Homo sapiens: one gene and its partner. The protein of the gene in region 2 interacts with the protein of the main gene of each other region in a pairwise test. Each region holds a gene or a part of one and is shown on either strand. Other genes may lie near its edges.

The links. The genes of interacting proteins can lie anywhere in the genome.
Region 1: the proteins of C5AR2 (region 2) and ABCA7 interact in a two-hybrid assay, tested with the Homo sapiens proteins (one large-scale study listed by BioGRID and IntAct).

The regions. Positions count from the first base shown.
Region 1 is NC_000019.10:1,053,597-1,057,244, reverse strand, and holds part of ABCA7 (phospholipid-transporting ATPase ABCA7), read right to left. Parts: intron 3,458-3,648; coding exon 3,409-3,457; intron 3,240-3,408; coding exon 3,135-3,239; intron 3,053-3,134; coding exon 2,904-3,052; intron 2,676-2,903; coding exon 2,551-2,675; intron 2,466-2,550; coding exon 2,367-2,465; intron 2,149-2,366; coding exon 1,894-2,148; intron 1,339-1,893; coding exon 1,306-1,338; intron 1,180-1,305; coding exon 1,002-1,179; intron 916-1,001; coding exon 746-915; intron 339-745; coding exon 161-338; intron 1-160. UniProt on the Homo sapiens protein: Catalyzes the translocation of specific phospholipids from the cytoplasmic to the extracellular/lumenal leaflet of membrane coupled to the hydrolysis of ATP. Transports preferentially phosphatidylserine over phosphatidylcholine.
Region 2 is NC_000019.10:47,335,168-47,338,815, reverse strand, and holds part of C5AR2 (C5a anaphylatoxin chemotactic receptor 2), read right to left. Parts: intron 1,722-3,648; exon of another isoform or gene 1,647-1,721; intron 1-1,646.

The DNA.
Region 1 (3,648 bases), about 46 Mb from region 2:
CACCCTGACCTCCTTGCTTTTTGAGTAGGAAGGCACAAAGTCTCCCACAATCCTCAAGACTTTACCCAGGCCATCTTGGACAAGCCCCTGCCTACAAGGGGCCAGACAGGGCAGTGGCAAGCAGTGGCTGGGCCCCCACCCGTCCAAGCAGCCCCCGCACCATGTCCCAGAGAAAGTTGCCAAGCCAGTAGAGGGTGGGGGACAGGCCCCCCATGAGCTGCAGGTGCTTGGCTCGGGTGACTCGCTCCTCAATGAGGACAAGAGTGAAGCTGGCCGGGACAAAGGACATGGCAAAGACCACACAGATGGAGACGAGGACGTCCACCGAGGAGGCCATCCTGGAGGTGAAGACATGAGAGCTGTTGTAGGGTGAGGGTGCATGGGTTGCTCAGAGCAGAGCTGAACACGCCATTGATGGGACAAAGGTCTATGGGGCAGTCAGCAGTGGCAGAGATGGCAGGGGCAATTTAGGGATGAGGGTGCCTGGGATTTGGCAGCAGAGGTTGTACAGGTCTCAGGCAGGATAAAGGTTGGTGGGATGAGGATGTGTGGGGGAGGCTGGGGCCCGCTGAGTCTGAGGAGGTCCCATTTCCCTGGCTTAGGGAGCAGAGGAACAGTTTCTATCCCCCATTTATAAAGCAAGAGTGTGTCAGGGTTCAAATCCAGCTCCCACCACCCCAAACGACAGAGAAATGGAGGCAGGGTAGGACGTGCAGGGTAGGACATGCAGGGTGGAGGGACTCACAGTGCACCCTCAGACAGCTGCTCCTTGGTGAGGTTCAAGGGGTGGTTGAGTGTGGTGATGCTGTGGGCGTGGCGGGCCGGGCCTGGGGGCAGGTGAGCACGGAGGATTGCGTTGCTGGCTCGGTTGACAAAGGCCACCATGGAGTGCCAGCCTTTGTTGTTGAACCAGATCTGGGTGGGGGTCAAGGTCATAGGGTCAGAGCAATGGGGTTGGACCTTGCTGTGACAGGACGCCCACCTGCCCCCCCAGTTCCCACCTTGAGACTGTCCTGAGCATCCAGGCTGTGAGCCCAGGCTGTGAGGTTTTTCAGGACACGGTCGAGGGCCCCGCCAGGCAGGGGACTCAGCAGCGCCCACAACTCCTCCACTGAGCGGCCCAACTCTTGGCCCGAGGGCAGGCCTGGGTCTCGGCCCCCCAGCGAGAAGCCTCCGTATCTGTGGGGCCATGCAGGCAGGGAAGGGGAGCTGAGGGCCGGGGGGGCCGGGAGAGCTCCCAGGGGGCAGGCAGAGGGCATGGGAGTGGAACTGGGGCAGGGGACCCCAAGCTAGACCCCTCCTCACCTGACCTCATTCACCCACTTCTTAGTCTTCAGGCTGTGGGAGAGATGGACAGAGACACAGGCAGACAGGGATGTGGGACAGAGAGAGAGATGGTGAGAGGGGAGCACAGAGTCAAGGGTGGACAAAAACAGGAAAGAAAGCCGGGCGCGGTGGCTCCTGCCTGTAATCCCAACACTTTGGGAGGCCAAGGCGGGTGGATCACCTGAGGTCAGGAGTTCGAGACCAGCCTGGCAACACGGTGAAACCCCATCTCTACTAAAAATACAAAAATTAGTCGGGAGTGGTGGTGCGTGCCTGTAATCCCAGCTACTCGGGAGGCTGAGGGAGGAGAATCGCTTGAAACTGGGAGGTGGAGGTTGCAATGAGCTGAGATCACACCTCTGCACTCCAGCCTGGGCAACAGAGGGAGACTCCATCTCAAAAAAAAAAAAAAAAAAAAAGAGGAAAGGAAGGTACGCGAGACTCCCAGCCCGTAGCCCCAAGCTGGGCATCCAACCCCTCCACTTCCTCCTCCAGGACCACACCAGCCCCAGCAACCCAAGGACCCATGCTATAGCCAGGGAAACTGAGTCCCAGGGCATGGCTCACCCCTGGCGCACCAGGCGCGGGTAGGTCTTGACCAGGAAGTCAGACAGGTTCCGGCCTGTCAGGTTCTGAACCACTTCCCCAGAGCCGGTCACTGCCTGGGGCGGAGGGGGACCACCAGCTGCAGCCGGGCAGTCGGGCAGCAGGCGCCGGGCACCGGGCCGGCTACACTGGCAGGCTGGGGATGGAGACTCTGGGGTCCAGTTGCCACTGGCCAAGACCTTGGCCACTTCAGCAGGAACTTCTGGTGCCGAGAACCTGCAGACAATGGGCTGTGCACACTCAAGGGCGCTGCAGGGTCAAGGTGAAGGTCTGTGGGCACCCAGCTTCTGGGGGTTCCTGGAGCCACAGAGGCTCCCAGCTCCCAGGTGGGCACAGGGGATGCTCCAGGTGCCCCCTGAGGCTCCCTGGCCAGGGACCAGATGGGAAAACTGAGGCCAGAGAGGGGAAAGGTCCAGGCCAACAAGACGCCTCACCTGTGGGAGCTATGCTGCACTGGGGGCTCCTCCAGTCCTGCCTCCTGCAGCAGCGCCTCGAGCAGCCGGGCACGTCCAGGGTCCCCTGGGGCGTCCTCACTGTGTGTGAGGGGAGATGTAGGGTCAGGGCTGTACCCCCAGGTCCCTAGTCTTCCTGCCACCAGCCCCTTCCTTCTGCACCCACCTGAAGAAGGACACCTGAGCACCGTACATGGTGGGACTGAGCCGCAGAGCCGGGTAGTGCCCGAAAGGAGGCACGATGAGGCTGAACACGAGGGCCAGGCCCACAAAGAGGGCAGGCAGCACGATCTGGGGGACCAGCCCATCAGCTGCTGCTTCCATCCACCCTCCAGGCTTGCTTGCACCTGTCCCTGCTCCTGCTCTACAACCACCCATGGCTCCCCAGTGCCCTCAATAAATGTGCTTTGGGTTGGGAATACACACGGGGGTAAGGGTTTGGATTAGGCCACTGAGTGGACGGCCAGGGTAGGGAACTCAGGGACTCCCATGCGACTCCCTGGTGCTAGCCCTCCTCACCTGGGCGAACAGGCCGCGGCGGCTGCGGCGGGCAAGCAGAAAGCGCTTGAGAAGCAGGGCCTGGAGCTGCTGGCGGGTCAGTGCCCAGCCCTGTACCCGGCCCACGGCGTCTGGCCCAGAGCCCTGGTCAGTCTCTGGGGCTGACCCAGCTGTGAGGGATGAGAGGGTCAGTGCTCACGCTGCTGTGGGGGGGTGGCTGGGAGGACCCCAGGGCCACTGGGAAGGACTTACCTGGTTCCCCGTTCTCCAGCGCTGTCTCCTGTGGCGGCATCTTGAGCCGTAGGGTTACGTCTAGGCCAGCAATGCCTGTGCATAGGTGCTGCCCGCAGCTGCCATCTGCAGGGCCATCAGGGGTCAGGGTCAAAGTTGAGGGTCACGGATTGGGGGATCAGGAATCAGGTATAGGGTAAAGGCTATGCCTTGGGCCACACTAAGCCAGGGATGGGGACCTGGCCTCTGGTCCCACTCTGGACTGGGGTCAGGGGTCAGGGAGCTGTGGCCGCACCCTCCATATCTGTGTCCGCAGCACACTCCTCCACCACCTTCAGGAAGATCTGGGGAGACAAGCAGGGGCTCAGAGACTGGACACCGACAGGGAGAACTGGGGGCTTGTGAGCCCCCCACCCCTCCTACACCATGGGTCCCCCAGGCCTTCCCAAGGGACATCTGAGCCACCAGAGCTCCTCATGTGCCATGCCTCCTCCCTGAATGTCCTTGCTGCTCATAAACACGCTATTCATCCTTC
Region 2 (3,648 bases):
GCCCAGACTGGACTGCAGCGGCACTTTCCCAGCTCACTGCAGCCTCCATCTCCTGGGCTCAAGCAACCCTCCACCTCACCCTCCCAAGTAGCTAGGACTACAGGTGCACACCATCATGCCTGATTAATTATTATTATTATTATTATTATTATTATTATTTTGGAGGTCATCTGGTTTCACCATGTTGCCCATGCTGGTCTTGAATTCTGGGGCTTAAGCAACCTGCCTTGTCTCAGCCTCTCAAACTGCTGGGATTACAGGCATGATTGCCACTGTGCCTGACAATAATAATAATAATAAAATTATTATTATTGGAAGCCACTGTTTCTTGAACATTTTGTGTTTTGTGTCAACTTTTTTTTTTTTTTTAGGGACAGATATTGCTCTGTCACTCAGGCTGGAATGCAATGGCACTATCTTGGCTCACTGCAGCCTCGAACTCCTGGGCTCAAGTGGTCCTCCCACCTCAGCCTCCTGAGTACGTGGGACTACAGGTGTGCACCACCACACCTGGCAAATTTATATATATATATTTTTTTTAGAGACAGGGTCTCGCCATCTTGCCAACGCTGGAGTGCAGTGGTGCAATCACGGCTCACTGCAGCCTCAAACTCTGTGCTCAAGTGATCCTCCCACCTCTGCCCCCTGAGTAGCTGGGACTACAGGCAGTGGCCACCACGCAGCTTTAAACACTGTATCACTGAAACCTTGTTTTATTTTATTTTATTTATTTTTTTTTTTGAGACGGAGTCTCACTCTGCTACCCAGGCTGGAGTGCAGTGGCGCTATTTTGGCTCACTGCAACCTCTGCTTCCTGGGTTCAAGCATTACTCCTGCCACAAGCCTCCCGAGTAGCTGGGATTACAGGCGTGCACCACCATGCCCGGGGCTAATTTTTTGTATTTTTAGTAGAGACGGGGTTTCACCATGTTGGTCAGGCTGGTTTGGAATTCCTGACCTCAAGTGGTCTGCCTGCCACGGCCTCCCAAAGTGCTAGGATTACAGGCATGAGCCACCGTGCCTGACCTCACTGAAACCTTATAATAACTGTCTGAATTTGACACTATTGTTATATTTATTCTACAGATAAGGCACAGAGAAGTTAAGTAATTTACCTAAGATCACTCAGCTAAGTAGGTAAAATTTTTTTTTTTGAGACAGAGTCTCGCTCTGTCATCCAGGCTGGAGTGCAGTGACGCAATCTCGGCTCACTGCAACCTCCGCCTCCAGGGTTCAAGCAATTCTCCCGCCTCAGCCTCCTGAGTAGCTGGGACTACAGGCACCCGCCACCATGCCCAACTAATTTGTGTATTTTTAGTAGATACGGGGTTTCATCATATTGGCCAGGCTGGTCTCGAACTCCTGACCTTGTGATCCGCCCACCTCAGCCTCCCAAAGTGCTGGGATTGCAGGCATGAGCCACCGCGCCCAGCCCTAAGTAGGTAAATTTCAAAGTGTGTTAGTCCCCGCTGCAGAACCCCATGCCCTAGAATATTACCATCTCCAAATCTTGGGCTCTGGAGAGCTGGCAGGCAGCACAGCAAGTGGTCCTGAGCAGCCCCGGCCTCCATGACTGTGGGTGTCAGTTGCAGCTGGCTGTGCCTATTTCCTCATCGGGGAAACAAGAGTCATTGAGGTGAACCTACCTCTGGTTTTGGGAGTCCTTGAGGAGTTAAGATTTGTCCAGCACGTGGCACACAGGCTCCGGTAGACAAAGCTGTGGGTAGCACAGGACCCAGGCAGGAGTCCCCACCCCCCCACCCCCACAATGTCAGAGTGACCTGGCCCTGAGGCTCTCTGCTGACTATTATGGGTTGGCTGGCACTGCTCAGCACTCCAGCTGGTGTTGAGGCAACAGGAAGGACAGAGAGGAAGTTGGGGCACTCCCCTCCCCCATGCCAGGTAGCAGTGAAGAGTCCAGGCCACTTGGTGTGTGTATTCGGAGTCTGGCATTCCACTTTCGTATTATTTTTATCCCTAGAGTAAAAGGTGTGCAGAATTTAGCCAGGTGCAGTGGCTCACACCTGTAATCCCAGTACATTGGGAGGCTGAGTTGAGGAGGAAGGATCGCTTGAGGCCAAGAGTTCAAGACCAGCCTAGGCAACACAGTGAGACCCTCTGTCTCTACAAAAAATTTAAAAATTAGCCAGGCATAGTGGTTCGTGCCTGCAATCCCAACCTTTTCTAAGACTGGGGTGGAAGATCACATGAGCCCAGGAGTTTGAGGCTGCAGTTAGCCATGATCGCGCCACTGCACTCCAGCCTGAGCAACAGAGTGAGACCCTGTCCCAAGAAAGAAAGAAAAAGAAAGAAAGAAAGAAAGAAAGGAAGGAAGGAAGGAAGGAAGGAAGGAAGGAAGGAAGGAAGGAAGGAAGGAAGGAAAGAAAGAAAGAAAGAGTACAGCATTTAAAAACTGAACCCCCCCTAGCCGGGCACAGTGGCTCACACCTGTAATCCCAGCACTTTGGGAGGCCGAGGTGGGCGGATCACTTGAGGCCAGGAGTTCAAGACCAGCCTGAGCAACATGGTGAAACCTGGTCTCTACTAAAAATACAAAAATCAGCCAGGCATGGTTGTGGGCTCCTGTAATTCCAGCTACTCGGGAGACTGAGGCAAGAGAATCGCTGGAACCCGGGAGGCAGAGGTTGCAGTGAGCCAAGATCATGCCACTGCACTCCAGCCTGGGCGACAACAGCGAGACTGCATCATAAAAAACAAACAAACAAACAACAACAACAAAAACCCTCAAATTCCTACCAGCTGTGTGGCCTTGGGCAAGTCACCTAAACTATCTGTGCCTCAGTAAAATGGGAATAATAATATTCCTGCCTTAGGGGGTGTTGTAAGAATTCAACAAGTTAGAAGGGTAGAGCTGAGTGTATAGCGCTGGTTTTCAGTGGGTGTCATACGTAGGCTAGCTGCTGTTATCACTGTCCACACGCATCCTCTCACCCCGCAAAGACTCCACCCTTCCTGGCCCTTGTTGATTACAATCCAGAAAACGAAAACTTTCTTTTTTTTTTTTTTTTTTTTTTTTTTTTTTTGAGACGGAGTATCACTCTGTCGCCCAGGCTGGAGTGCAGTGGTGCGATCTCGGCTCACTGCAAGCTCCACCTCCCGGGTTCGCATGATTCTCCTGCCTCAGTCTCCCGAGTAGCTGGGACTACAGGCGCCCGCTACCACTTCCGGCTAATTTTTTGTATTTTTAGTAGAGACAGGGTTTCACCGTGTTAGCCAGGATGGTCTCAATCTCCTGACCTCATGATCCGCCCACCTCGGCCTCCCAAAGTGCTGGGATTACAGGCGTGAGTCAACATGCCCAGCCCAATCCAGGAAACTTTCTGTGCATATAATTTGCCCAGCTGTAAGCCCAAAGCAATGGTATCGTAGATGGCATTTCCTTTGTAACGTCTTAACCAGAAATGGGAGCTTTCAACATACGTTGTTCCATTTCTTCATCTTTTCCACTTAACGTGCCCGATATCTGTTTTCCTGTCTATCTGTACAGATATCAACCCCATTCGTCCTCAAAGCATCAAAAACAGTCCACTGTCTGCCCAAGTGGTGCTTATTAACTAAAGGCCATTCAATAACAATGGTAAGGAGAATAATGAGAAACAGGGCCAGGTGCAGAAGCTCACACCTGTA